7 linked regions of the Homo sapiens genome follow. The protein of the gene in region 4 interacts with the protein of the main gene of each other region in a pairwise test. Each region holds a gene or a part of one and is shown on either strand. Other genes may lie near its edges. The genes, in order: ZNF564, FBF1, PPP1R16B, TADA2A, TTC23, AATF and TTC9C.

The links.
Region 1: the proteins of TADA2A (region 4) and ZNF564 interact in binary tests that used the Homo sapiens proteins (3 or more experiments, as listed by UniProt).
Region 2: the proteins of TADA2A (region 4) and FBF1 interact in binary tests that used the Homo sapiens proteins (3 or more experiments, as listed by UniProt).
Region 3: the proteins of TADA2A (region 4) and PPP1R16B interact in binary tests that used the Homo sapiens proteins (3 or more experiments, as listed by UniProt).
Region 5: the proteins of TADA2A (region 4) and TTC23 interact in binary tests that used the Homo sapiens proteins (3 or more experiments, as listed by UniProt).
Region 6: the proteins of TADA2A (region 4) and AATF interact in binary tests that used the Homo sapiens proteins (3 or more experiments, as listed by UniProt).
Region 7: the proteins of TADA2A (region 4) and TTC9C interact in binary tests that used the Homo sapiens proteins (3 or more experiments, as listed by UniProt).

What each region holds. Positions count from the first base shown.
Region 1 is NC_000019.10:12,541,001-12,545,191, forward strand, and holds part of ZNF564 (zinc finger protein 564), read right to left. Parts: intron 1-4,191.
Region 2 is NC_000017.11:75,916,549-75,920,739, forward strand, and holds part of FBF1 (fas-binding factor 1), read right to left. Parts: intron 3,882-4,191; coding exon 3,726-3,881; intron 3,560-3,725; coding exon 3,459-3,559; intron 3,327-3,458; coding exon 3,120-3,326; intron 1,722-3,119; coding exon 1,614-1,721; intron 1,523-1,613; coding exon 1,383-1,522; intron 1,303-1,382; coding exon 1,184-1,302; intron 1-1,183. UniProt on the Homo sapiens protein: Keratin-binding protein required for epithelial cell polarization. Involved in apical junction complex (AJC) assembly via its interaction with PARD3. Required for ciliogenesis.
Region 3 is NC_000020.11:38,913,415-38,917,605, reverse strand, and holds part of PPP1R16B (protein phosphatase 1 regulatory inhibitor subunit 16B isoform 1 precursor), read right to left. Parts: intron 1-4,191. UniProt on the Homo sapiens protein: Regulator of protein phosphatase 1 (PP1) that acts as a positive regulator of pulmonary endothelial cell (EC) barrier function. Involved in the regulation of the PI3K/AKT signaling pathway, angiogenesis and endothelial cell proliferation.
Region 4 is NC_000017.11:37,437,539-37,441,729, forward strand, and holds part of TADA2A (transcriptional adapter 2-alpha), read left to right. Parts: intron 1-199; coding exon 200-291; exon of another isoform or gene 292-420; intron 421-2,966; coding exon 2,967-3,124; intron 3,125-4,191. UniProt on the Homo sapiens protein: Component of the ATAC complex, a complex with histone acetyltransferase activity on histones H3 and H4. Required for the function of some acidic activation domains, which activate transcription from a distant site. Binds double-stranded DNA.
Region 5 is NC_000015.10:99,155,412-99,159,602, forward strand, and holds part of TTC23 (tetratricopeptide repeat protein 23), read right to left. Parts: intron 887-4,191; coding exon 737-886; intron 1-736. UniProt on the Homo sapiens protein: Participates positively in the ciliary Hedgehog (Hh) signaling.
Region 6 is NC_000017.11:36,986,496-36,990,686, reverse strand, and holds part of AATF (protein AATF), read right to left. Parts: intron 4,071-4,191; coding exon 3,956-4,070; intron 2,169-3,955; coding exon 1,967-2,168; intron 1,441-1,966; coding exon 1,276-1,440; intron 1-1,275. UniProt on the Homo sapiens protein: Part of the small subunit (SSU) processome, first precursor of the small eukaryotic ribosomal subunit.
Region 7 is NC_000011.10:62,731,005-62,735,195, reverse strand, and holds part of TTC9C (tetratricopeptide repeat protein 9C), read right to left. Parts: intron 2,079-4,191; exon of another isoform or gene 1,997-2,078; intron 1-1,996.

The sequences.
Region 1 (4,191 bases), on a different chromosome or scaffold from region 4:
TGTCTCAAAAAAAAAAAAAGACAGCATAGCCCCAGCCTCAGGAATGTGGCAAAACCCTGTCTCTACAAAAAAAAAAAAAAAAAAAAAAGAAACACAAAAATTAGCTGGGTGTGGTGGCACGCACCTGCAGTTCCAGCTACTCAAGAGGCTCGAGGGAGGAGGATCACCTGAGCCCAGGAAGTCTAGGCTGCAGTGAGCCATTGACTGCACTACTGCACTCCACCCTGGGTGATGGGGTTAAGACCCTGCCTCAAAAAACAAAAATAGCTAGGCAGGGTGGCTCACGCCTGTAATCCCATCACTTTGGGAGGCTGAGATGGGCGGATCACCTGAGGTCAGGAGTTCGAGACCAGCCTGGCCAACAAGGCAAATGCCCATCTCCACTAAAAATACAAAAAAATTAGCTCGGCGTGGTAGAACGCACCTGTAATCCCAACTACTTGGGAGGCTGAGGCAGGAGAATTGCTTGAACCCAAGAGGCGGAAGTTACAGTGAGCCAAAATCGCGCCACTAGACTCCAGCCTGGGGATGGAGACTCTGTCTCAAAAAAAAAAGAAAAAAAAAATCAAATTAGGAAGCACTACATGGAGAAATGGCATAGATCCTTAGAAAAGAGGCTGAATATTACCATGATATATGCTTAAGCTGTCCCAAATACAGTGCTTTATTTAATTCCATAAAATTCACAACCAGATTTGCTTGGTATGTTATTAAACTTAAGAAATGCTATTTCTGCCAGGCATGGTGGCTCACGCCTGTAATCCCAGCACTTTGGGAGGCCGAGGCAGGCGGATCACATGGTCAGGAGATCAAGACCGTCCTGGCTAATACGGTGAAACCCCGTCTCTACTAAAAATACAAAAAATTAGCTGGGCGTAGTGGCAGGCACCTGTAATCCCAGATACTCAGGAGGCTGAGGCCGAGGAATCGCTTGAACCCGGGAGAGAAGAGGTTGCAGTGAGCCAAGATTGTGCCACTGCACTCCAGCCTGGGTGACAGAGCGAGACTCTGTCCAAAAAAAAAAAAAAAAAAAAGAAATGCTATTTCTTGGCAGGGCATGGTGGCTCACGCCTGTAATCCCAGCACTTTGGGAGGCTAAGGTGTTCAAGACCAGCCTGGCCAACACAGTGAAACCCCGACTCTACTAAAAATACAAAAATTAGCCGGGTATGGTGGTGGGCGCCTGTAGTCCCAGCTACTCGGGAGGCTGAGGCACAAGAATTGCTTGAACCGGGTAGGCAGAGGTTGCAGTGAGTAAAGATCACGGCACTACACTCCAGCCTGGGTAACAGAGTGAGACTCTGTCTCAAAAAAAAAAAAAAAAAAAAAAAGGTTTAAGAAACACTACTTCTAGGCCAGGCACACACATGGAATCCCAGCATTCTGGGAGGCCAAGGTAGGAGGATCACTTGAAGCCAGGAGTTCAAGATCAGCCTAGGCAACATAATGAAACCTCAACCAAAATTAAAAATTAGCTGGGCATGATAGCACGTGTCTGTAGTCCCAGCTACTCAGGAGGTTGAGGCAGGAGGATCGCTTGAACCCAAGAGTTGTAGGCTGCAGTGAGCTATGATCACGCCAGTGCAGATCATGCCTGGTGACATAGGGGGACCATCTCAAGGAAGAAAGGAAGGAAAGAAAGGGAAAGGAAGAAAGAAAAGAAAAAAGGAAAGGAAGGAAGGAAAGGAAAAAAAGGAAAGAAAGGAAGGAAAAGAAAAAAGGGCCGGGCACCATAGCTCATGCCTGTAATCCCAGCACTTTGGGAGGCCGAGGTGGGTGGATCACCTGAGGTCAGGAGTTCTACACCAGCCTGACCAACATAGTGAAACTCTGTCACTACTAAAAATACAAAATTAGCAGGGCATGGTGGCACATCCTGTAGTCCCAGCTACTTGGGAGGCTGAGGCAGGAGAATCAATTGAATCCCGGAGGCAGAGTTTGCAGTGAGCCAAGATCATGCCGTTGCACTCTGGCCTGGGCAATAAGAGAGAAACTCCACCACAAAAAAGAAAAGAAGGGGCCGGGCGCGGTGGCTCACGCCTGTAATCCCAGCATTTTGGGAGGCCAAGGCGGGCAGATCACCCAAGGTCAGGAGTTCAAGACCAGCCTGGCCAAAACAGTGAAACCTTGTCTTTGTAAAAATACAAAAAAATTAGTCAGGCGTGGTGGGGTGCACCTGTAATCCCAGCTACTCAGGAGGCTGAGGCAGGAGAATGGCTTGAACCCAGGAGGTGGAGGTTGCAGTGAGCTGATATCACACCACTGCACTCCAGCCTAGGTGACTGAGTGAAACTTCGTCTCAGAAAAAAAAAAAAAAGAGAGAAGGGGAGGGGAGGGGAAGGGGAAGGGGAAGGGGAAGGGGAAAGGGAAGGGACCACTTCTAAAAACTGAAATAGCCGGGTGCAGTGGCTCATGCCTGTAATCCCAGCACTTTGGGAGGCCAAGGTGGGTGGATCCTGAGGTCAGGAGCTCGAGACCAGCCTGGTCAACATAGTGAAACCCTGTCTCTACTAAAAATACAAAAAATTAGCCAGGCATGGTGGCACACCTGTAGTCCCAGCTACTCGGGAGGCTGAGGCAGGAGAATCACTTGAACCCGGGAGGTGGAGGTTGTGGTGAGCCAAGATCACGTCACTGCACTCCAGACGGGGCAACAAAGCGAGACTTCGTCTCAAAAAAAAAAAAAAAAAAAAAAACAACTGAAATAGGACTCAAATATCTAAAAACAGCAAAGACTTCGTACAGTACACTGTTAGAAAATGTTACAGCCTGAATCTGTGTGTCCCTCCCAAAATTCATATACTGAAATTCTAACTCCTAATGTCGTTGCATTAGGAGGTGGCATCTTTGGGAGGTAATCGGGGTTAGAGACCATGAGGGTGGTGCCCTCATAAATGGGATTAGCACCTTTAGAAGAAATGACAGGAGACAGCTTGCTTCCTCTCTCCTCTGCCTTGTGAGGATATAATGAGAGATGATGATCTGAAAACCACAAAGCAGGCCCTTACCAGACACTACATCTGCCAGCACTTGAACTTGGACTTCCCAGCCTCCAGAACTGTGAAAACTACATGTGTGCTGTTCAAGCCACCCAGCCTATGGCAATGTATTACAGCATCCCCAGGTGACTAAGACAGTACAGCACTTTCTCAACCATACATCAGGGTTATGAAATAATTAGGACACTATGGCAGTAGCAGAAAGATAAACCAAAGAAATATGGGAAATTCTGAAACCAGGGCATCTATGTAGGGTATGTGAACCTATGACAGAGCAGGTATGGTCAGTCAGGGACAGAAACGACGGACAGTTAAACCCCAGCAGCAGTGATAACCCATCTTCTGCCATCATCTCCACATAATGTTGTGAATTCAGTGTAGAGCTGTCTATTGCAGTGAATTCTTAAAATTGTATGCTACCTCAGAAGCCACTTTGAATATGGCTTTAACTTTCTCATACCAGAAGCAGGGCTTAGTCACCCTTAATACAGTTTCCAGTTCTACGCCTCCTCCCATTTCCTCCATGTGGTCAATCCAGTTATCTGCCTTACACAGCCGCCTCCCTGTGACCACCTCCGCATGAGACGGCTAGATACAAACTGCTGGAAATCATCCAACTGACCCTACACAAGGAATGCACAGAGAGGCTGCAGGGACCACCTCTCAGTCACCATGTGACTCCACGAAATTCCCATCTGGTTGCTCTAAACTCACCAACTAGAACTCCCACAGAGTCTCCAATAAAGGCATCTGCCCAGATTCCTCTGTCTTGCTCCCTGGTTAGGTGTGTATATCAGGTCTGAAACAGCCACCCTCTTCCTGTTGGCCTACAAGGAGAACTATCCTTTCTCTCTGGGATCTATTACCTAGCAGCCTGTTTCACCCACAGTCACAAGGAAACCCACATTCAGAAGGTTAAACAAGCCTGAGGACCATTCATGTGAAGATGTGGCCCACTCCTAAGAGATGAGTGAGGGAGCCGGGTGTGGTGGCTCATGCTTGTAATCCCAGCACTTTGGGAGGCCAAGGCGGGTGGATCACCTGAGGTCAGGAGTTTGAGACCAGCCTGGCCAACACGGAGAAACCCCCCGTCTCTACTAAAAATACAAAAAATTAGCTGGGCGTGGTGGCGCATGCCTATAATCCCAGCTACTCAGGAGGCTGAGGTAGGAGAATCACTTGAACCCAGGAG
Region 2 (4,191 bases), about 38 Mb from region 4:
GGTCAGGCTGCAGTGAGCTATGATCACACCACTGCACTCCAGCCTGGGCAACAGAGCAAGACCCTGTCTCTAAAAAATAACAGTGCTTTGTAAAACCTTAGAAGATGATAACTACTAGCTGAGGACAAAAAGATAGGTGGGAGGACAAGGAAGGCTTTGTGGAGGTGGTAGCATCGAAAGATTCATTACCATTGAATTCAGCCTAGAAAGATTTCCACAGGTAAGGAAAAGGATGTGAGCAAAGGCAGGGACTGCAGGTGTGCACCACCACACCCAGTTAATTAAAACAAAATTTAAATGTTTTTATTATTTATTTTTTTGAGACAGAGTCTCGCTCTGTTAACCAGACTGGTGTGCCATGTTATGATCTCCACTCACTGCAGCCTCTGTGTCCTAGATTCAAGCGATTCTCCCACCTCAGCCTCTCTAGTAGCTGGGATTACAGGCGTGCGCCACCACGCCTGGCTAGTTTCTTATTTCTTTATTTTTAGTTTCACCATGTTGGCCAGGCTGGTCTCGAACTCCTGACCTCAAGTGATCCTCCAGCCTTGGACTCCTGAAGTGCTGGAATTACAGGCATGAGCCAACTTGCCTGGCATAAAAAAATTTATTTATGGTCTCGCTAGGCTGGTCTCAAATTCTGGGCCTTAAGTGATCCTGCTGCCTCAGCCCCCCAAGTAGCTGGGATTATAGGCACAGGCCACTGTGCCTGGCTAAGGTCATCATTATTTAAATAAAGCATGTGCTTATATATGAAAGGTATCTAGGGAATTCAAATGTCTCTGTGAGAGCTGAAGAGGCTAGGATGACATTTAATGGGCAAGAGCATCTGTCCCAATGTCAGGCCTCAGCTAATGTGACAGATTCGAGTGTCAGGAAGTGGGAAGTGCAGCTGATGGTTGCGGGGGCTAGACTGCGGAGGGCAGCCAAGGTGGCCGAGGGGCTTGCGGTGCTGAGGAGCGGACAGGGCGTGGTGGGGGGCCTGGCCAGGCGGCCCCTGCATGCTCAGGTGGGCAGTGCTGAGAGCCTGGCCAGGGCAGGGAGATGTAGAGGCAGGAAGCGGCAGGTGGGGCCTTGACCTCCTGAGGAAGTGAGGTCACGGGAGTGCCGCTACACTTGCGGGTGCCCTGGAGAAGAGGCCCCGTGGCAGGAGGGGCAGGAGGGCCAGGAGGACGGGCCTCACCTGCTCCAGCAGCCGGCTCTGCTCATTCAGCCGTGCCTCCATCTTCCCGATGACCTCCTGTTGCCGGCTCCGCTCCTCCTCCATGTCCCGCTGCTGCTGGCCCAGCCGCTCCTGCAGTGCTGGGGGCAACCCACAGGGTGCTCAGCAGCTGCTCCCCCTTCCCACCAGGAGCCGGGGTGGCTGAGAGGGGAGGGCGTACCCCGCAGCTGCTCGTCACGCTGCCGGATCCCCAGCTCCCGCTCCTGGGAGGTGGTGAGGTGCGAGGCCTCCACGCGGGAGGACAACTCGTGCAGGCTGCTGGAGAACTTCTCCATCTGGTGGATGATGCTATTCAGGGACCTGGAAGAAGACTGGGTCACCCCCTCCTGACGGTCTCGGGGACCTTCCGGCCCCCAACGTCAGGCGGGCATGGTTGGGGCAGCGCACATACCGCGTGTGGGAGGTGGCACTGGTGGCCGCATCGACCTCTCGGTCCTTCAGCAGCTTTAGCCGCTGCAGCTGCTCCTCGTGGTCTCTGCGCATGTCTAGGATGGACGCCCTGAGGGGAGGCGGGAGGGGAAGGCGGTCACTCTGAGCTGGATCACCCTGATGCGGTAACTCCTTGTGGAAGGGTGTGTTTCCGTGCAGCCCTTGCTCCCAGGCCTCTCCTCCGCCGGGCACTGCCTCAGTTTCCCCAGCTCCTCTGTCTTATCTGTCATGGTGCCTCAATGCTACACGCACTAAGATGGGCATTCCTCCCATTATTCAGCTTTTCTTTTTTTGGAGATGGAGTTTTGCTCTGTCACCCAGAGTCTCTCACTCTGTCGCCCAGGCTGGAGTTCAGTGGCATGATCTCGGCTCACTGCAACCTCTGCCTCCTGGGTTCAAGCAATTCTCCTGCCTCAGCCTCCCGAGTGGCTGGGACTATAGGCGCTCACCACGCCTAATTTTTTATATTTTAGTAGAGATGGGGTTTCCACCGTGTTGCCCAGGCTGGTCTCGAACTTCTGAGCTCAGGCAATCTACCCACCTTGGCCTCCCAAAGCACTGGGATTACAGGTGTGAGCCACCACGCCCGGCCCCAAGCAGTCTTTCTTTTTTTTTTTTTTTTTCCTAGAGATGAGGTCTCACTATGTTGCCCAGGCTGGTCTTGAACTCCTAGCCTCAAGCAATCCTCCTGCCTTGGCCTCCCAAGTGTTTTGTTTTTTAAATGTTTTTAGAGACAGGGTTTTGTTCTGTGGTCCAGGCTGGAGTGCAGTGGCATCATAGCTCATTGCAGCCCTGATCTCTTGGGCTGAAGGTATCCTCCTGCCTCAGTTTCCCAAGTAGCTGGAACTACAGGAGTAGCTGTCATGCCAGCTTATTTAAAAATTGTTTTTAGAGATGAGGTCTCACTGTGTTGCCCAGACTGGTCTCAAACTCCTGGCCTCAAGTGATCCTCCCACCTCGGCCTCCCAAAGTGCTGGGATTACAGGTGTGAGCCACTGCACCCGGCCCTGAGCAGTCTTAAAAGGCTGCCTCTGCCTTCATCGACCTCTGACTCCCTTAGGTAACTTTTCTTAGTTTCCTTCTCTTCTAGAAAGGCAACCCTATAAACATGGCAGGCACAACAGCGCAAGCCTTTCCCAGGTGGATCTTGTTTCTAGCCTCTACTGCATGAGCAGGCGAGTGGATGACCCTGTGCTTAGTTAGACCCTAGGCGGCTTGCTGCTGCCATGCCATGCCTGAACAGCCTGTGGGTACCCCCTCCTGCCTCTGTAAGAGCAGGTGGCACCCCCACCCATGGGTGTGATGGGTCAGTGTGCTCAGCCCTCAGTCCTCACTCACTGGACTGGGAGGGAAGGACCCAACCCCTGTCCAAAGGCTGCTGAGCCACAGCGAAGGGTCTCGTGGGGATGGCTCTCTTCCGGCTACTCCTTGCAAGCCTGCTCCCCAGCTGCCTGTCCCTGGGCCTCACCGCTGCAGCTCCCGGAGCCGCTCCATTTCCTGGTCCTTCTCCTGCGCTATGGCCGCCAAGCGCCGCTGGTGCTGGGCCGTAAGCTCAGCACGGGCCTGTTCGGCCTCCTGGCACTGCGACAGATACCGAGCTGACAGCTCTTCGTTCTCTCTCCGGAGCCGCTCCTCCCGTTGCTGGTACGATGTTTCTAGCACCTTGATGCGGCTTCTGCCAACAGAACACCCAGCCATGGCGCAAGGAAGGCAGAGGGCTGCCGCCTAAAGGCCTCTCCAGGCACACTGGGTGGCCTTTGGGGTCAGTGTGAGATCCAAGGCAGAGCTGGGGCCAGCGCCAGGGTACCTGTGTGCACTCTCGATGAGCTCCAGGTCTGCCTGGTGCTGCTGCTGCAGACTCCCCAGCAGCAGCTCATGCTGGGCCCGTTCTAGCTCCAGCTTCCGCACCTGGGAGACAGCAGGAGGGCCAGCAACCAGGGAGGGGAGGTGGCTGTACTCCACGCTGCCCTGTGCCAACAGCCCTTCCTCCCTCCTGGGGAAGCTTCCAGCCACTCTCAGTGTCCCCTCCTGTCGCAACCCTGCCACCAGCACCAACGGCCCCGCTGCCCCTCACCTGGGCCTCCAGCTCTGCCAGCCGGGCCTGGCTATGCAGCAGCTCGGCCTGGAGCTCAGCGGGGCTGCACTGAAGTTGCACCTGTGCTGCCAGGAGCTGCTTCTGGTATTCTGTGCTCGGCAGCAGGCTCCGGGCCAGGGACTCTGGGAGCAGGGGCTGGAGGAGAGGAAGAGAGGTGTTTCTAGTTAGGGAGGGGACAGGGGCCCAGCTGAGATCAGCTACCTCCTGGCCCACTGCTCACTGGACCTCCCTGCATCTGATCTGTGGCTGCAGATGGGGCCAAGGCCTTGGAAAGTAACAGTCACTGCGGCTAAGCAGTCCCCAGTGTACCTCCCCTTGCAGATCTGGTCAGGAGCATGTCTCCCTCCACCCTCCGGAACAGCTTCCTCCCCAGCATGGTCTCCGGCTTCCCAGACAAATGGCTGAACCCCAGCAGAGTCTTCGCTATGACAAAAGCTGATGCTGG
Region 3 (4,191 bases), on a different chromosome or scaffold from region 4:
TTTTCAGTCACTTGTAATCCTTCCTCTGTATATGAAGCATATCTCACAAAGATTCTTACCCAGGGATCCTGTACACCTAATAATCCTTGGATAACAAGAGTTTGAAAAGTAGCTGCTTCCTAAAAACTATAAACTAAAAAATAGATACATGCAACAACATTTAAAGCACAGCAAAAATCACCATGAACAGGGAACAAGGTCAAAAGACACATGAAGAAACTAGGAAAATATTTTCAACATATATTACAGAAAAGAGACTAATTTTCTAAAAGTATAAAGAGCTCTTAAAAGTCCTTTTTTTTTTTTTTTTGAGACGGAGTCTTGCTCTGTCTCTCAGGCTGGAGTGCAGTGGCGCAATCTCTGCTCACCGCAACCTCTGCCTCCCGGGTTCAAGCAATTCTCCTGCCTCAGCCTCCCGAGTAGCTGGGATTACAGGCACGTACCACCACACCCAGCAAATTTTTGTATTTTTGTAGAGATGGGGTTTCACCATGCTGGCCAGGCTGATCTTGAACTCCTGGCCTCAAGTGATCCACACTCCTCAGCTTCCCAAAGTGCTGAGATTGCAGGCATGAGCCACCGCACCCAGCCAAAAGTCAATTTTTAAAAGCCTATCTACCCAATAAAAATAGTAGGCAGGGGATACTAATATGTAGCCCACAGCAAAATATATAGATATACATGGCATTGGAATAATATTCATCCCCACTAATCGTTAATACTATAAAAATTAAAACAACAAAATATCACTTTTGGATATCACACTGACAAATACGTTTAAAGTGTGTTATTACTCAGTGTTGGCAGGGGTATGGGGAAATAAGTGAGAATGTAAATTGCTACAGTCTCTTTGATGGACAGTTTTGCATCATCCTTCACTGAAATTTTTTTCTTTTTTTCCTTTCTTCTCTCCCCAGCTCTTCAGTAAAAAATAAAAACAATAATAATGATAAAAATTTTTAGAAAAGATTGTATACTTTGCACCAGCAAGCCCATTTCACAGATTTTCTCTCTCATTAGTGCAAAGCCTGAAAGTCATCATTGGGCAAGCAGGACACTGTGGCCAGTACTTCTATTGGCATGCTCTGTAGCTGGCAAAAAGAATGAAGGAATTCTCCACAAGCTGGCATGGAAAGATGTCCAAGATATATATATATAATCTAGTTTATAATCTAGTTTTCTAACATATATTTATATATAACATACATATATAAATATATATAAAACGTACATATATAACATATATGTACATATAACATATATATGTATTTATATATAACATACATATATAACATATATAACATATATATGTTATATATATATATGGTAATATGTGATAAGGCAAAGAACACTTTCCATAGTAAGTTTCCATTTATGAGTGTGTATTTCTTCGCTTTCTCCTTTTAGAGTCAGGGCCTCACTATGTTGCACAGGCTGGTCTTGAACTCCTGGTCTCAAATGATTCTCCCACCTCAGCCTCCCAAAGCACTGGGATTACAGGCATGAGCCACCGAGTCCAACCTTTTTTTTTTTTTTAATGGCTCCTTCTGAACTATGCAGGCAGACTGATGCCATGTCATGGAGAGACCGTTTCTTGGTGGTCCTAGTCAGTGCTTCTCAAACTTTGATGTGTATGTGAGTTGCCTAGGGATATTGTTAAAATCCATATTCTGATTCAATAGGTCTGGGTTGGGGCCTGCAATTTGGCACTTCTAAGAATTTCCTGCTGATGCTTAGAGTGGCAAAGATCTGAGACACTGATCCCATCTTGGATGCACATTGGCATCATCTAGACAGTTAAAAAAAAACATGTACAGGCCGAGCGTGGTGGCTCACGCTTATAATCCCAGCACTTTGGGAGGCTATGGTGGATGGATCACTTGAGGTCAGGAGTTCGAGACCGGCCTGGCCAACATGGTGAAACCTTGTGTCTACTAAAAGAAAAACACAAAAATTAGACAGGCGCAGTGACGCAGGCCTCTAATCCTAGCTACTCAGGAGGCTGAGGCAGGATAATTGTTTGAACCAGGAGGCAGAGGTTGCAGTGAGCCAAGATTGCACAACTGCACTCCAGCCTGGGCAATAAAGTGAGACTCCGTCTCAAAAAAAAACCATATAGAACACCAATCTGAAAGCATCACATATTATATAATTCCACGTATATAACATTTTGGAAAAGCAAGACTTATGAAAACAGTAGAAGATCAGTGATTGCTAGAGTTTGGGGAGGAAGCGTAAGTAGAATACCAGGGCTGTTTAGTGGGACAGCCCTGGTCTCTTTCACCAGTTGTTCACAATCTCAACTGTCTAATATAACCACCTAAACCAAGTGGCGAGAGCATTCTGTGTGACACTATCATGACGGACACATGACATTATGCATTTGTCAAAACCCACAGGAGTTACGACACAAAGAGCAAACCCGATGTAAACTATGGGCTTTAGTTCATAATAATGTATCAATATTGGCTCATCAGTGATAACATATGTACCACACTAATGCTAGTTGTTAATAACAGGGGAAACCAGGGTGGAGGGGGGTGTATATGGGAAATATCTGTACTTTCCACTCATTTTTCTAGAGTTCTAAAACTGCTCGGAAAAAAAAAATCTATTAGTTTAAAAAGAAAAAAATCCCTGCTGGGTGCAGTGGCTCATGCCTGTAATCCCAGCACTTTGGTAGGCTGAGGTGGGAGGATGGCTTCAGCCTAAGAGTTGGAGACCAGCCTGGGCAACATAGTGAGACCTCATCACTACCCAAATATTTAAAAATTAGCTGGGCATGGTGGTGCGTGCCTGTGGCTCAGCTACATGGGAGGCTGGGCAGGAGGATCACTTGAGCCCAGGAGGGTGAGGCTGCAGTGAGCCATGTTTGTACCATTGCAGTCTAACCTGAGTGACCCTGTCAGAATGAGACCCTGTCTCAACAAAAGAAAACAAAACCCACCTATATCCATCTCCAGTGTCAGAAATCAGAGCATTGAAGGAAGAGGAATTAACTCCAGCCTGAAGGATGTGGGTTAGACGAAAGAGGTTTTCTCATGATGCAGGGAACTTCTAAATGTACTTATCTGCCTAATGCTTAATGAGGTACAAATTATGGGCTGAGTTCTATACAAATAAGAACACAATTGACCCTAGAACACCCTTTGTGGTAGGCACCATCATCTTGGCAATGTTGAACTGAGATACTGGACAACAGGAAGGTTAAACAAAACCCCCACATTTTGTGTTCTGGGGAATGGCTGACTGCACAGAATCACCCTTCCCCATAGGATTTCCAGAACGCTCAGACGACCCCTCCTTTTCCTAGGACAACCCAAACACAGTCCCCCAAATTCTCATTCTTTTCCTCTGAAATGATTAAACTGTCAATTTATCAACCGAAATTAAATGCTTGCTAAATGATTTTTTTTTTTTTTTGAGATAGAGTCTCACTCTGTTGCCCAGGCTGGAGTGCAGTGGTGCAATCTTGGCTCACTCCAACCTCTGCCTCCCAGGTTCAAGTGATTCTCCTGCCTCAGCCTCCCAAGTAGCTGGCATTACAGGCACCTGCCACCACGCCTGGCTATTTTTAGTAGAGACAGGGTTTCGCCATGTTGGCCAGGCTGGTCTCAAACTCCTGACCTCAGATGATCCGCCTGCCTGGGCCTCTCAAAGTGCTGGGATTACAGGCGTGAGCCACTGCGCCCAGCGGTAAATGATTTAACCAAATTTTAGTTAAGCTGCTCCCCTCCCCACAGGATCCTGGACTTTGACTCACCCTGAGGGTAAACAAGCACTGCAATGCAGAAAAACTCTCCTGAAGACCGTTCTGGAAATGGGCTGACCACCAGACACACATTCCTGGTCAACTGTCCAATTACACCACCTGCTCATCCCACCCCCAACCCTCAGTCCTTGCAGCCTCTGTCTTCCTCCCTAGGAAACGAACTCCTTTCTCCTTGACCTCCAAGATCTTGCCAATTCTGTGGTCGATGCATTCTACTTACTGCTGCAATCACTTCAAAAACAGTCTCTCTTTAGCTTTAAAAAACAACGACATGGCCAGGCATGGTGGCTCACGCCCGTAATCCCAGCACTTTGGGAGGTCGAGGCGGGTGGATCACAAGGTCAAGGGATTGAGACCATCCTGGCCAGCATGGTGAAACCCCGTCTCTACTAAAAATACAAAAATTAGCTGGGCATGGT
Region 4 (4,191 bases):
ACCATGCCCAGCTCATTTTTGTGTTTTTAGTAGAGATGGAGTTTCACCATATTGGCCAGGCTGGTCTCGAACTCCTGACCTCAGGTGATCCGCCCGCCTCCGCCTTCCAAAGTGCTGGGAGTATAGGCGTGAGCCACCGTGCCTGGCCCCTAGATTCCATTTGTATCTCTGTTCTTAAGCAAAACTTTTTTCTCCTTAGACTTCAGATTTTCCTGTCCTTGATCCCAGCTGGACTGCTCAAGAAGAAATGGCCCTTTTAGAAGCTGTGATGGACTGTGGCTTTGGAAATTGGTAAGAGCTTGGTGTTAAGAGTTGTCCTGCCCTAGTGGACTCAGAGAAGAAGCTGTTGTTGAAGAGTAAAGGAAGGAACCTCAGGAAGAGAAAGTATGTGTTGCTTTCCTATCAACCCATGATTTAGAGGCAAGTTAGTCCCCTCTGTACATTATTTTTCCAGTGTCGAAATGTGTCACGAGGATATGGGATGTTTAGCGGTCCATGACTGAGCAGCTTTAAAAGGCCACTTTGGATGTATCAACAGTGGGAAGATTGATTATTATTCCTTTCTGAATAGTAGGGAAGTTTAGTTTCGTTAGTTATTACTCCCTTCTGATTTTATGAATTTTTGTTAGTTGTAGATGCCCTAGTCATTTAAGTGAATCAGACTTTAGCTAGATGGTCATACGTAAGATTCAAGTTTCACAGACTTCCTGATAGCATTCTCTGTTTTTAGCTTTCAAACACCTACCTGCCTTAGTCCAAAACCGGCGGAATTGAATAGCACTTATTGCTGTTGACCTAGGGGGCAGCACCACTTAATACTACCACTTTCGTTTTTATCTTTTGGGAACACTTTCATATGGATGCTTTTATTTTATGAACTAGATAGCAGAGGCATTATTGAATATATTTTGTTCACAAATTATCTGAAGCCTAGGGGGTTGAAATGATTTCTTGTGATTACATAGCTTATTACTGAAGGACTCTTAATTAGGTCCTCCCTGTCCTGACTTACTAGTGTATATAACCTTTCTTGGTGTTCATCAGAATAAACTCTGCTGCCTGCCTCCCTTATGTCCAGGGACCTGAAGAAGGAGACCTGAATTTAGTTCACATTTTGCTTGTATTCATTCATTCAGTATTTATTAAGCATCATAAAATACTGTGTACAATGAGAAATACCAAAGGAGGTAGAAAAGTAATCACTTGTGAGGAGTTTGCTAGTCATCTTTGGCCTAGTTTTTCATTTTTTGCTTACCATTCTCTCTAAAATAGTCTAAACCTCTCTGTCCTCCTTCCCTCTTAACAAAGAACATAAAAAAGACATAGCTTCTCTATCCGCTGTGGGTAAGGCACTAAGTTTGGCAGTGAGTGGGCTAGAGCTAAGAATTATGAGATGCATCCTGTCTTCAGAAAGCTTATAGTTTAGCAGGGGACTTAAAAATACAAGTGATTGAAGTACACAAAACAGCACAGTGATGCCTTAGGGGAGGTCAAGTGAAATGCTGTGAAAAAGAGACCTTGAGGAAAGGACTTCCACCTGTACCTCTCCATTACCTTGGCTCAAGTCAGGGATTTTTTTTTATTGAGACAGTCTCACTTTATCACCCAGGCTGAAATGCAGTGGTGTGATCACAGTCACTATAACCCCGAACTCCTGGGCTCAAGGGATCTTCCCTCCTCAGACTCCCAAGTAGTTGGAACAACAGGTGTGCGCCACCATACTCAGCTAATTTTTAAATTTTATTATTATTATTATTATTTGGAAACAGGATCTTGCTCTGTCGCCCAGGGTGGAGTACAGGGGCATGAGCTTGACTCATTTCAGCTTCAACCTTCCAGGCTCAAGTGATCCTCCCAGCTCAGGCTCCCGAGTAGCTGGGACTACCGGCGTGTGCAACCACCCCTGGCTAATCTTTGTATTTTTTGTTGAGATAGGATTTTACTGTGTTGCCCAGGCTGGTCTCGAACTCCTGAGTTCAAGCCATCCTCCCACCTTGGCCTCCCAAAGTGCTGGAATAACAGATGTGCCCCACCATGCCTGGCCAGATTCTTAAGCAAGTTTCTTAATTATTTTGGGCCTCATTTTTCCTTCTTTGAAATTGAGATAGTAACAATATCCATACCACAAATTTGATACTAGGTTTAACTTAAATTCTGTTGTGAATGTTTCTAGCTCAGTGTCTGGCATCTCATAGCAGCTCTAGTAAAGAAATGTTTATGTTAAGTGTTTGGTAAACCGTAAAATATTAGGCAAAATAAAACTATATTTCTGTATATTTTGAATGTTCTGAAGTCACTTCTTATTATTTACAGCAATTATTTCTGTAGGGCCTAGCTCACAGGAAAATTTACAAATTTTCCAGTCATCTTTATTTATTTATTTATTTATTTATTTATTTATTTATTATTTTTTTTTTTTTTTGAGATGGAGTTTCGCTCTTGTTGCCCAGACTGGAGTGCAATGGCGTGATCTCTGCTCACTGCAACCTTTGCCTCCTGGGTTCAAGCAATTCTCCTGCCTCAGCCTCCCAAGTAGCTGGGATTACAGGCATGCATGCACCACCACGCCTGGCTAATTTTGTATTTTTAGTAGAGACAGGGTTTCTCCATGTTGATCAGGCTGGTCTCTAACTCCCAACCTCAGGTGATCCACCTACCTCCCAAAGTGCTGGGATTACAGGTGTGAGCCACTGCGCCTGGCCTCAGTCATCTTTCTTTAAGTGGAAAAGAAAGGACTTTTTAGTCATTATTTCTGTGTTTTAGACTAGCAAGATATGGAACACCAGATTACACCAATCTAGGCTTATATTTATGTCATTTTTCTGCTGATATCTTTTTGATATCAATTTGGAAATATGAGAGTATATTATATGGATGTGACTTAAAATATGAAAAGAGCAAATGATGCTTTTAGTATTATGTGTAAATACAAGTACCACTTCTCTCTTTTTCCCACAATCCTCTAGGCAGGATGTAGCCAATCAAATGTGCACCAAGACCAAGGAGGAGTGTGAGAAGCACTATATGAAGCATTTCATCAATAACCCTCTGTTTGCATCTACCCTGCTGAACCTGAAACAAGCAGAGGAAGCAAAAACTGCTGACACAGCCATTCCATTTCACTGTAAGTGCCTCCCTATCTTGATAAGATATACTTAGCTCATCCTTGGGCCCTGTTTCAGTAGCAGATAAAGAGTGATTTGATGACTTGGACAGCTAATGATATCACGGAAGATAGGAGGAGTTAGTATGGCAGCTATTGAGAGTCAGGATCGACCCAGCATGGTGGCTTGTGCCTGTAATCCCAGCACCTTGGGAGGCTGAGGCGGGTAAATCACTTGAGGCCAGGAGTTCAAGACCAGCCTGGCCAACATGGCGAAACCCTGTCTCAACTAAAAGTATAAAGATTAGCTGGACGTGGTGGCAGACACCTGTAATCCCAGCTACTGGGGAGGCCAAGGCAGGAGAATCACTTGAACCGGGTAGGCGGAGATTGCAGTGAGCCAAGATCACATCACTGCACTCCAACCTGGGTGACAGAGTGAGACTTCATCTCTTAAAAAAAAAAAAAAAAAGAGTCAGGATTATAATGTGGCAAAGAAGGAACATACTCTAAGGGTCAGAGTTCTATACAGGACATCAAGGTGCTTGAAGCCAATGTGTAGTTCCACCTACCTTGAGTCCTTTGAACATATCAGTTAACTTAGTGCTTTCCTTTGTAAAATAAGATGTCAAAAAGGGAAAACCTTTTCTATGCTATTATGAGTGCAAGTTTTTTTTCAATCCCTTTGGAGAGCTTATGATTATACATATGAGTTGCTTAGAGAATACAGTATTTGACTCATTATTATTAATTGCCTTGGTGTCAAGCCCAAGAATCAGTTTGTTATTTTTGTTCGCTTGGTTGTGTCAGTGATGGCGAACTTTTTAATCTCATGTGCGTGTGGGACCAGTGGGTCTCTTAATAAAATATAACCAAAAACATGATGAATTATAAATGACCATCTTTCCTGAATGACTCTCAGGGTACAAGTAATGAGATATGAATGTTTTCACTTCCCTTTTCTCTTTCCTCATACTCTCTAGAAACAGTTTTATAGCTGACTAACTTAAAGGCTGGTAATACCTCCTTTTTTTTTTTTTTTGGAGACAGAGTCTCGCTGTGTCTCCCAGGCTGGAGTGCAGTGGCAC
Region 5 (4,191 bases), on a different chromosome or scaffold from region 4:
AGCTCTTTATGGAGTTAGACAAATTGATACAAAAATTCATGTAGAAAAATAAACACGGAAGAATAGCTAGAACACCTGATATTCTAGTAAAAGAAAAGCCATAAGGGGTGTCTACTCCTATCACATATTAAATCATTCTATAAAATCTCTGTAATTAAAACTGAAATATTGACACATGAATAAACAGAAAGACTAGTGGAAGAGAAGAGAAATCTAGAAATAGACTTAAGTCCATAAGGAAAATCAGTATATGATGAAGGTGTTATCTGAAGTCACTGGAGCATAGATGGGCTCTCTAATTAAATGGTGCTGGACAACTGGGTGGCCATTTGGAAAAAAGGTAAGATTAGATCCATTCCTCATGCCATCCACACAAATAAACTCCAAATTTAAAGAAGAATGACAATTGAAGAAAGTGTAAGAGAATTCCTCTATAAACTCAGTATAGAGAGAGCACCGCAAACATAAAGGACTGATCAATTGTACTACGTAAAAAATTAAAAATATTTGCATAGTAAAAACTGATAATTCATTTAAAAAATATGTATGTCTAAGAGGCTTACTATGTCTTTTACCCAAAAAGTATCAGGTTAGATCTACCACAAAAGTGATGTCATCCTATCTAAACAAGCCACTTCTAAAGTTTCATTTAAAAGAACCACCACAAGGGAGAGAAATTGACCTTGGAGAGGGGAGGGAGAGCCTAGTCTCGTGTTAGTACTGGTTCCAGCTTTACCTTCTTCAGTTTCTTGCGGGCCCCACTGTGGTTCCCCTGCGCCAGGTCTGCTCCTCCCAGGAGCCGGTATGTCTCTGCCACCTCGGGACTGAAATCGCCAAATGCTTCCACTTTGGCTTCCAGGGACTCTCTCAGGATCGAGGTTGCTCTCTGTGAAAGGAACAAAAAGCTATCTGGTTAACAAGCTCAAAGGCTGATTAGGATCATTACGCAACTTGTAACATTTTCACATGGGTGTGGTAGTCTCACGAGCTGAGCCTGTTCTCCTCTTGTATTAGTCCATTCTCATGCTGCTATGAAGAGATACCTGAGACTGGGTAATTTATAAAGCCAAGAAGTTTAATTGACTCACAGTTCCACATGGGTGGGGAGGCCTCAGAAAACTTACAATCATGGCAGAGGGCACCTCTTTCATAGGGCAGCAGGAGAGATAAGTGCTGAGCAAAGGGGGCAAAGCCCCTTATAAAACCATCAGATCTTGTGAGAATTCAGTCACTATCGCAAGAACGGCATGGGGGTAACCGCACCCATGGTTCAATCACCTCCCACAGGGTCCCTACCATGACACATGGGTATTATAGGAACTATAATTCAAGACGAGATTTGGGTGGGGACACAGCCAAATCATATCACCTCTGGTTGAACAAGAGTCAGGAAACAACACGAATGTGAGGAAAGGTGTAAACTATGAAGAGAGAGGACACCTGGCAAAATAAACCCACTCAGCCATTACAGGAATCCATTTCAGTTGAGTAGTAAGAACAAAAGCTGACATGGATCAGTCCTCACATGTCACTAATTGTGCTGAACACACACAATTGTGTGGGTCTCATTTAATTTTTGCTGTCTTCTTTAGATGGGTAAAATTTTAATCCTCATTAGGCAGAGGAGGAAACAGGCACGGCAGTTAAGAAACTTGCTCAGAGTCAGAGGGCTCAGCTGTGGTGGTGCTAGGATCTGAATCCAGCCAGTGATCTTCATACCTTTTTTTTTTTTTTTTTTTAAATCCGTCTCACCGTCTCAGCAGATCTTCCATTTTACAACAGCAGGTGGAAATCTGGAGGTTTTTTTTTTTTTTTTTTTAGACAGAGTCTCTCTTTGTCTACCAGCCTGGAGTGCAGTGGCATGATCTCAGCTCTCTGCAACCTCTGCCTCCCAGGTTCAAGCGATTCTCCTGCCTCATCCTCCCAAGTAGCTGGGATTGCAGGCGCCCACCACCATACCCAGCTAATTTTTGTATTTTTAGTAGAGACAGGGTTTCACCATGTTGGCCAGACTGGTCTTGAACTCCTGACCTCAAGTGATCCACCCACCTTGGCATCCCAAAGTGCTGGGATTACAGGCGCGAGCCACAATGCCCAGTCTAATTTTCATACATTTTAGTCCCATGCTTTTCTCCCTCTGTCCACAATGCTATTCTTACAGAAGTGAAAATATAGCATTCCTGGGCAAATTATCTATGTATAGAACATCCTGAACACACTCCAGGCTTGGCTATTCTCATAGGAAATCGTTTAGGAAACTGAAAGTAAACATTCCAACATGACATGACATTTTGTTTGGTTTATCCAATTTATTTATACTAACATGGAATAAAAATTATGAATTGGTCAGGACATAGTATTTCCTGATATTAGCTTCTTCAGACACCAAAATATGCAGGGGGAAACCCTGTTAAAGTATGTCAATCCTCCATACTTTCTCCAGAAATTCTTCCACGATCTTCCACATGAAGGCACGACATCAGCTGCAGAGCATGGATGCTGAATTTAACTGGCAAATACAGCAGGGACCATGGGAGCTTCCTCATGACACAGCCCCAAAGGGGTCCCAAAAGTGCTCCACAAACAGAAGGACAAGGAGGGCGTTTAATCCTTTTGTTGGCAATAATACAAGTTAGGGGATAGGGCCGGGGTAGGGGAACCACATTACAGGTGCTGATGAGGCAGAAATAAATTTCTCAGGTGAAAGAGGAATCTCTGTAGAGGCAGAGTGATTGTGTAACTCAGCAGTGAGGCCCCACTGAGGTACATGAGGGACTAGAATTTAAATCTAGACTTGCCTGAGGGTAAAGCCCATCACATCTCCCAAGTTCTGAGAGCAAGGACTTGGACTGCTGAGAGTGCTGGGTTTGGTGATATTTCTGTGGGAAAATATCACTGTCAGACTTAGAGGAGCCAGTGATGGGGAGAAGACCCGGGGAGACTCCCTTTCCCAGATAAAGCTTTGGATGCCGCCTACAGCCTGACTGCGGAAACGGGGAGATGTGAAGGAAGTTAAATGGCACGGGTTTCTAGGAAACTGAGATAGTATCAACCTCTGCTAGGAAAAGCTTAAGAGAGAGGAGTGAAGAGTAAAGAGGACTTAGGTGGGATGAGAAGAGGGTATGGGCCACTGGGAGCACAGGAGGAACACATGGCCTGTTGAGGGCCAGTGAGTGGCCAGGCTGAGGAAGTCACAGAAGATTCTTGAGCAAAAGAGTGGCACAACTAGAAGACAAACCCTCACGGAGTAGCTTAACCTGTGGCAGAGTGACCTTCACTTACATTTTACCTTAAAAGGCATTTCATCCCTCAAATATCATGTTCCACAGTGCCCATGGCCATGTGCTGTGGGAACACCTGGGATGGCCTGAGCACAGCCCCATTCTTGGCTCCGGGACTGTCCCTGGGCCCGGCCCTTGTTGGCCAACACCTGCTAGAACCCACAGTGAGAGGTTTGCAACCAAATGGTGAGAACAGCATGAGACTGCCATGTTTGGCTGGGCAGGTGGTGCCACACACAAGGGTGCCTGGCAGGAGCATGGGGAGGGCTGAAATCCAGCCTATGGTCCTCTCCAACATGGGCGGTATCTACCTGAGGAAGGGGCAGCTTTTTCTATTATGATAAGGGCATTGGATGGGCTGGCAGTGGCCCTAGAATGAAAAGAGCCAGTTTGCTAAAATCTTCGAGGGCAGCTTAGGAGAGTGAGGTGCATCTTTTGATCAACACTGATCTGGGTGACTTGGGCAAGGGCAGTGAGGCATAGCATCAGTGACACTGAGCATTGGCTGACTCAGCAAGACACTATGGTGGGAAGCCAGGCAGTACAGGGGAACTGATGCATGGCCCACAGGAGTCAGAACAGTCAGCTGGCCTGTGGCCAAACATGCATCCACCTCTCTGCTCATCACTCCTCACCACAGGCAAGAGGGTCTCTGCTTTCACAGGTTCGGTCTAGTTGCAAGATAGATGTTAAATATCCACATGAATATATACTTACAAATATTTGATGACATCAAATGGATTCTCTAAGGAAGAATAATGGGGAGTATCTAATGAAGCCTGGGGAGAGGAATCAGAGAAGCTGGTAAGAAATGAAGAATGGGTTAGCATTGGCCTGGAGATGAATGAGGAAGGGCCTTCCAGGAGGAGGAAACAGAAGCTGGCACTGCCCGGAAGTGGGAATTAGAAAA
Region 6 (4,191 bases), 450 kb from region 4:
AAGCACTGTTTTCCTTAAGATATAAAAAGTTCTTAAAATTAAAAAACAAAACAGTCCAATATGAAAACAGGCAAAAACATTAACAGGCAGTTGACCAAAAAAACCCATAAATAATCATATGAAAATATGTTTACCCTCATTCAAATTAAATATGTGTAAATTAGAATTAGAAGATACCATTTTTCACCTCTACGACTGAAATTAATGCAGCCTTTTTGGAGGCAATTTGGCAACATCTATCAGAATTTGGTGTATTTTCTTTAACACTTCCACTTCAAGAAATCTACCCATATATTTATACGAACACATAATACATGTACAGGAATCTTTCCTGTAGCAGTGTTTCTGAAACTGGAGACAACATAATATCCATTGTTTGCATAAATGATAGTGCATATCCATACAATGGAATACTTTGAGGTCATTAGGAAAAATGAGGTAGCTCTCTAGGTAATGAAATGGAAAGAGTATCTAGGACTTATTAGATTTTAAAAGTTGCAAGACTTTAAATACAGTTGTAATATTTTACATATTTATACTACATAAATGTCTCTCATTTAGTAAAAAAGGCAACCATATTTATACATATATATTTGTTATTTGCACACATATATAGTTACACAAATAGAAAAGACCCAAAAACTTGTTACAACTATTAATTATTAACTGTAAACTTGTTACAACTATTAAATACTGAAAATTTCACCTCAGGAGTTACGTTAACAGGCAATTGACAAAAAAAATAAAAAAATTTCACCTCAGGAGTGAAATTTTCAGAGTAGAGAATTTTGCTTTTCATTTTAAGTTGCTATAAACTAAAAAAGGATTAAGTATATATTTCTTCCATAATTAAAAAATTTTAAATGTTTCCTTTAAACAAAAGAATTTGACTATTCCACTTCTGCACCCTTTCTAAAGTACCTAAATGGCAAACGTTGAGCCTAAAGTACACACTTGTTTCAATACTGACATTTCTACAGAAGTAGCTTTAAAACTGAATTTTGAAAATTGGATTATGAATGCTTCTACTACCAGACTCCTGCATCAAACTCAAAATTAAGAGAAGATGACACACAGGAGTTAATAGAAGCCCCATTTTTAAAAACTCTCTCCTCTCACATACACTCAAGTTTCTCTCAGTAATCCAGTAAAGTAGTGTTGCTTTCCTTTCTCTCACTAACCTCTTATATAAACAGGTAATAGCTACAAGTTTTTCAGCTAATAAGCCTCATAGAAACTATTCCCCATAATCACTCTGCATTACAGAGTTCTTACCGGTTCCCCTGGCAAACTCTCTGGGACAGGCTGAGCTGCTGGCTCAGGTTTGCCAAGAACTCGATAGACAGAGCGCTTGGTCTGTGTCCTTCGAAGTAATCTCTCTTTGTCCATCAGAATATGGTCGATCTGAGTCAAGATTGAGCGTTCAAAGGCACCAAAACCCTGCAACAACATTAAGCAGTGTCAGATAATGCAGAAAATCAGTGCTGAAGGCAAGCTACATTGGTTTCTCTATCTTTCTGTGTCAGCAGAGAGATAGAAAATCATCTTTTCAGGAGGGACTTTCTGTAAAGGACTGAGTTTGTGAGTGGCTATAATTGTTCTTAAAAAAAAAAAGTTAGTCTTAAGCAGGTCATATCATTTTTCTACACACGGAGATTAGCTTCTGATACTTTAATAATTATTGCTTTGAAATCCACTCCTTTAAAGTATTTGGATTTTCAGCACTTGAACACTTACAAGGCCTCAATTTTAAGAATAAAACATTCTTTCTAATAAAGTTAAAATCCCAAGTCTGAATCGTATAAACCCCAGTGCCAGAAGTTCAGTAGATTTTGCTATAGAAATGAATGATTACCATTACATCGTGACAACATCCATATAAATGAGCTGTAGTTCCAATTTCTTAAAACTTCTTCAAGTTGCCACAACCTATCTTACACATACATGCGCGCATACACACACTTGCCTTCCCCAGTTTTCCAGAAGCCAGTTTGGTCTTATCGTGCCATTTCTGAAGTGTGCGGTTCCTGTAGACTGTAAAGTCGGCAAAGCGCTTTGCCATGAAGCTGGGATAGTCCTCCATCTCCAGCTTCCTCTTTGCAGGGACCCTTCTTCGTTGCTGCTTCTTCTCTTCTACCAGCTCATCATCTTCACTAGAAATCTCCTCACTAGAAAAGCAGTAAGAATATTATGTCCAGTGTAAACAAACATTACTTAGATTTTAAAAACTAGGCTCACATAAAGGACTGAGAATATTTAGGCCTTACCTGTTCTGTCTCCATTCAAAATAACACCAAAGATATAAGGATGGCTTTTGCTCTTTGAGAAGAATATTCATGAGATCAATCAAAAACTCGTGTAACTTTTTTTTTTGAGACAGTCTTGCTCTGTTGCCCAGGCTGGAGTGCAGTGGCGCGATCTTGGCTCACTGCAACCTCCACTTCTGGGTTCAAGCAATTCTCATGCCTCAGCCTCATGGGTAGCTGGGATTACAGGTGTGTGCAACCATGCCCGACTAATTTTTTTCATATTTTTAGTAAAGATGGTGTTTCACTATGTTGGCCAAGCTGGTTTCAAACTCCTGGCCTCCAGTGATCCACCTGCCTCGGCCTCCCAAAGTGCTGGGATTACAGGGCATGAGCCACCACACCCAGCCTCATGTAACTTTTAAAACAAATATAAAAAGAACTAGTTTCAAAATATTTTTTAAAAGGTAAGTAAACCATAAAAATAAATGAGGTTTTAAAAGAATTATTAGAAATGTGTATGAACCAGGCCTGCAGTATTATAGGACAGTATTTAAAAATTAAACACATAACCATATTTCTACGACCTTAATCCTCAAATCAATAAGGGAAATGTGTCTCTCTGTAACCAACTGTTAAGGAAAGATGAATAATATTAGTTGAACCAAATACAAGAGAAGCTGAATGTGAAGAAAACTCAAAGCGGTAGGCAACAATTAGCACTAACTAACCTGCAGTGCCATCTATGCAACTGCCATGGCAATGTAATACAACCTCCAACTATCTGCCAGTTGCACTCACTGGATTACTGACCTCAACATATAATAGGTGCTCAATAAATGTGAGTTTCCTTTTTGTCCTCCCAACTAGTTCAGTAGATAAAAAGTGAAACAAAAGATAAGCTCGAGGGAAAAAAAGCAAGCAGGTATATACAGCAGGTGTAAACAAAAGGGGGAAAAATCTTCATCAAATGTAATAATTTCAGGGGGAAAAAATAATTATTTTGCTGTTTTCTGAAATTTTTCCATCTTTCATAATAACAGCTTTTATTCAAAGGAGATGGCTGTGACCAGTGATTCCAATATATGGTATGGGCACAGAATGTTTCATAAACATTAATTAAGCATTAATATTTTAAAAATGTGCTTTTGGCCAGGTGAAGTGGCCCATGCTTATAATTCCAGCACTTTGGGAGGCTGAGGTGGAAGGATGGCTCGAGCCCAGGAGTTTGAGACCAGATAGGGAAACACAGCAAGACCCTGTCTCTACAAAAAAAAAAAAAAAAAATAGCCAGGCATGGTGGCAAGTGCCTGCAGTCCCAGCTATTTGGGAGGCTGAAGCAGGAGGACCGCTTAAGCCCAGGAGTTTGAGGCTGCAGTGAGCTGCGATCACATCACTGCACTCCAGCCTGGATGACAGTGTAAGACCCCATCTCTAAAAAACAAAGTGCTTTTATCTTCTAATTCCAATAGATCTAAAGAGAAGGCAAGCCTTTGTCTAAGACCGCAAAGCACATCAGGTACAACTAAATATAAAAATCTAAAATCTAATCACCAACTTATGTGCCATCCTGACCATCAGGTAAATATGAGACTCTATTTTACTAACATTAATATCTGCCTGAAGAGAACTTAGCTTTTCTTTCATAAATGATGGGAAACTATCCAAATGAAAAGAAAATAAGCAACTCCATGATTCTGTTCTCTTACCTTCCCGCATTGGGCTTTGTCCCATCTACTAGATATCTAGTGTCTGGGTACTGGAAAAGCAACTCTTCCTGAAGACCTACCAATGACCTCAACAATGCTTTAAGTGCCTTGTGACCTGGGAAATAAAGGACAGAGAAAGGACAATTAATTATCTACAATTCTCCAAAGTAGGTGATGCCTATAACTCATGACTCCTGAGCAGTTCTGGCTGTGGGGAGTGAAGGGGAGGCACAGGA
Region 7 (4,191 bases), on a different chromosome or scaffold from region 4:
TCGGCCAGGTGCAGTGGCTCATGCCTGTAATCCCAGCACTTTGGGAGGCCGAGACGGGTGGATCACCTGAGGTCGGGAGTTCGAGATCAGCCTGACAACATGGAGAAACCCCGTCTCTACTGAAAATAAAAATTAGCCAGGTGTGGTGGCGCATGCCTGTAATCCCAGCTACTCGGGAGGGTGAGGCAAGAGAATCGCTTGGACCTGGGAGACGGAGGTTTCGGTGAGCCGAGATCGTGCCATTGCACTCTAGCCTGGGGAACAAGAGTGAAACTTTGTCTCAAAACAAAACAAAAAATTCATATATCTTGTAATCTACTTCAATATTTACTGATTTTCTGCTACATATTTAGTAGCCAGTTAGGCTTGGCTATAAAGCTGGTAAGAACATACTTTAAAATTTATTTAAAACTCGGCTGAGCATGGTGGCTCATGCTGTAATCCTAGCACTTTGGGAGGCTGAGGTAGGAGATTTGCTTGAGCCCAGGAGTTCAAGACCAGCCTGGGCAACATAGTGAGACCCTCCCCTGTCCCTTTTTTTTGGCAGAGTATTCACTGCAGTGTTATAAGAAGTGTATTCCGAATAACAAATGTATTCTTTTTTTATTATTTTTTTAAGACAGAGTCTCACTCATCAGCTAGGCTGGAGTGCAGTGGCATGATCTTGGCTCACTGCAACCTCCAGGTTCAACCAATTCTTCTGCCTCAGCCTCCCGAGTAGCTGGGATTACCCATGTCCAGCTAATTTTTGTGTTTTCAGTAGAGATGGGGTTTCACCATGTTGGCCAGGCTGTTCTCAAACTCCTGACCTCAAGTGATCTGTCCACCTTGGCCTCCCAAAGTACTGGGATTATAGGCATGAGCCACTATGCCCAGGTGAGACCCTATTTTTTTTTTTGAGATGGAGTCTCGCTCTGTCGCCCAGGCTGGAGTGCAATGGCGCGATCTCAGCTCACGGCAACCTCCGCCTCCTGGGTTCAAGTGATTCTCCTGCCTCAGCTTCCCGAGTAGCTGGGATTACAGGCACACATCACCATGCCCGGCTAATTTTTGTATTTTTGTAGAGATGGGTTTTCGCCATGTTGGCCAGGCTTGTCTTGAACTCCTGACCTCAGGTGATTCGCTGGCCTCAGCCTCCCAATGTACTGGGATTATAGACGTGAACCACCCTGCCCAGCCCCCTCATTATTATTATTATTTTTTGAGATGGAGGTCTCGCTCTGTCGTGCAGGCTGGAGTGCAGTAGCGTGATCTTGGCTCATCGCAACCTCTGCCTCCCAGGTTCAAGTGATTCTTCTGCCTCAGCCTCCTGAGTAACTGGGATTATAGGCGCTCACCACCATGCCTGGCTAATTTTTGTATTTTTAGTACAGACGGGGTTTCACCATGTTGGTCAAGCTGGTCTCGAACTCCTGACCTTGTGATCCACCTGCCTCTGCCTCCCAAAGTGCTGGGATTACAGGCGTGAGTCACTGTGCCCGGCCCCATTAATTTTTTATATAAAATTAGATATGCAGTGAGCCGAGATTGTACCACTGCACTCCAGCCTGGGTTATGGAGCAAGACTCCATCTTAAAAAAAAAAAATTAGATAAATTACAATTTTTTAAAAAACAAACTAACCTTCATTGTATCTCTTCTACCTGAGGCTCTATGTCCTGAATCCCCCATTTCACCACAGTTCTTGTACTGCAGCTTTGTTAATAATGGTTGCCATTAATTGTCAGGAAATGGCAAGCGCTGTGCTATGTGCTTGATATACACTGTCTTGTTTAATCTTCGCATCTACACTATTAAATAGGTGTTACTATCTTCATTTAGTGGATGAAGAAATCAAGACTCAGACAAATAACTTGTCTAAGATCTTACAGGTTCTAGGTGGAATATGAAATTTGAATGAAGTGTTGTCTAACTCCAAAATCATCATTCTCAGTAACAATACAGCATATAACTTCACTATTCTCTTGGATGACTTAATGGGACCTTGAAATACAAACCTGCAGAGGAGTCAATTCAGGCAATTCAGGTCAATGTTCTGCCTTTTTATGATTAAGAAGGGAAACACTCCCTATTTCACAACTGTGGGAATTAAACATAGTATTATTAAATCATGGTGCTGAGAAAGATCAAGAATCAGCAGTGATGAGCACATTAAAGGGCCTGTGCTGATGTCTGTATCCCTTCTACAACATCCCCACCAAGTGGTCAAAAAAAAAAAAAAAAAGTGGAGGAATACAGAAGAAACAAGTAAATGAATTTTTTGTTTGTTTGTTTTTAGACAGAGTCTCCCTCTGTTGCCCAGGCTGGAGTGCACTGGTACGATCTTGGCTGACTGCAACCTCCACATCCCAGGTTCAAGCGATTCTCTTGCCTCAGCTTCCCAAGTAGCTGGGACTACAGGCACCTGCCACCACACCCAGCTAATTTTTAAAATATTTTTAATAGAGATGGAGTTTCACCATATCAGCCAGGATGGTCTCCATCTCCTGACCTCGTGATCTGCCTGTCATGGGCTCCCAAAGGGCTGGGATTACAGGCGTGAGCCACCGCACCTGGCCCAAGTAAATTAATTTTTTTTTTTTTTGAGACGGAGTTTTGCTCTTGTTGCCCAGGCTGGAGTGTGCAATGGCGCGATCTTGGTTCACCACAACCTCCGCCTCCCAGGTTCAAGCAATTCTCCTGCCTCAGCCTCCCTAGTAGATGCGATTACAGGCATGCACCACCACGCCTGGCTAATTTTTTTGTATTTTTAGTGCAGATGGGTTTCTCCATGTTGGTCAGGCTGGTCTTGAACTCCTGACCTCAGGTGATCCGCCCACCTCGGCCTCCCAAAGTGCTGGGATTACAGACATGAGCCACCATGCCCGGCCCAAGTAAATTAATTTTTAAAAGTGCTTTAAGAGGCTGGACGCAGTGGCTCACGCCTGTAATGCCAGCACTTTGGGAGGCTGAGGCAGGCAGATCATGAGGTCAGGAGATCGAGACCATCCTGGCTAACACGGTAAAACCCCGTCTCTACTAAAAATACAAAAAATTAGCCAGGCGTGGTGGCGGGCGCCTGTAGTCCCAGCTACTCGGGAGACTGAGGCAGGGGAATGGTGTGAACCCAGGAGGCAGAGCTTGCAGTGAGCCAGAATTGCGCCACTGACGCCAGCCTGGGCGACAGAGTGAGACTTGGTCTCAAAAAAAAAAAAAAAAAAAAAAAAAGTGCTGACCAGGCGCGGTGGCTCACACCTGTAATCCCAGCACTTTGGGAGGCCAAGGCGGGAGGATCACTAGGTCAGGAGATGGAGACCATCCTGGCTAACAAGGTGAGACCCCGTCTCTACTAAAAATACAAAAAAAAAATTAGCTGGGCGTGGTGGTGGGCGCCTGTAGTCCCAGCTATTCGGGAGGTTGGGGCAGAACGGCATGAACCTGGGAGGCAGAGCTTGCGGTGAGATCACGCCACTGCACTCCAGCCTGGGCGACAGAGCAAGACTCTGTCTCAAAAAAAAAAAAAGTGCTTTAAGAAAAATAAAACTATGTCGGGACAGAGAATGAATGAAGTCAGAGTGCTGTTTGCTTCTGGAAGGCTTTTTGGTGGGAGGAATCGGGGGACAGAGTCTTACTTGCTCTGTCACCCAGGCTGGAGGGCAGTGGCCCAATCTTGGCTCACTGCAGCCCCGGCCTCCCATGCTCAAGACATTGGCCCACCTCAGTTTCCAGAATAGCTGGGACTACCGGCAAGCACAACCATGCCTGGCTAATTTTTGTATTTTTTGTAGAGACCGGGTTGCGCCACATTTCCCAGGCTGGTCTTGAACTCCTCGGCCTACCAAGGTGTTGGGATTACAGTTGTGAGCCACTGCACCAGCTACAGAAGGCTTCTCTAAGGAAGCAACTTTTGAGTCCAAATCTGGATAAGTGTCATTCAAGGGACAGGGCATTCTAGCTGGAAAGACAGCCTACAAAAGTGTGAAGGTGGAAATGTACTTTGGACATTAAGTGTATAAAAGGGCCAGTTTGGGAAGGGCATGGTGGCTCACACCCATAATCCCAGCACTTTGGGAGGCCGAGGTGGGTGGCTCACCTGAGGTCAGGAGCTCGAGACCAGCCTGGCCAACATGGCAAAACCCCGTCTCTACTAAAAATACCAAAATTAGCCAGGCATGGTGGCAGGTGCCTGTGATCCCAGCTACTTGGAAGGCTG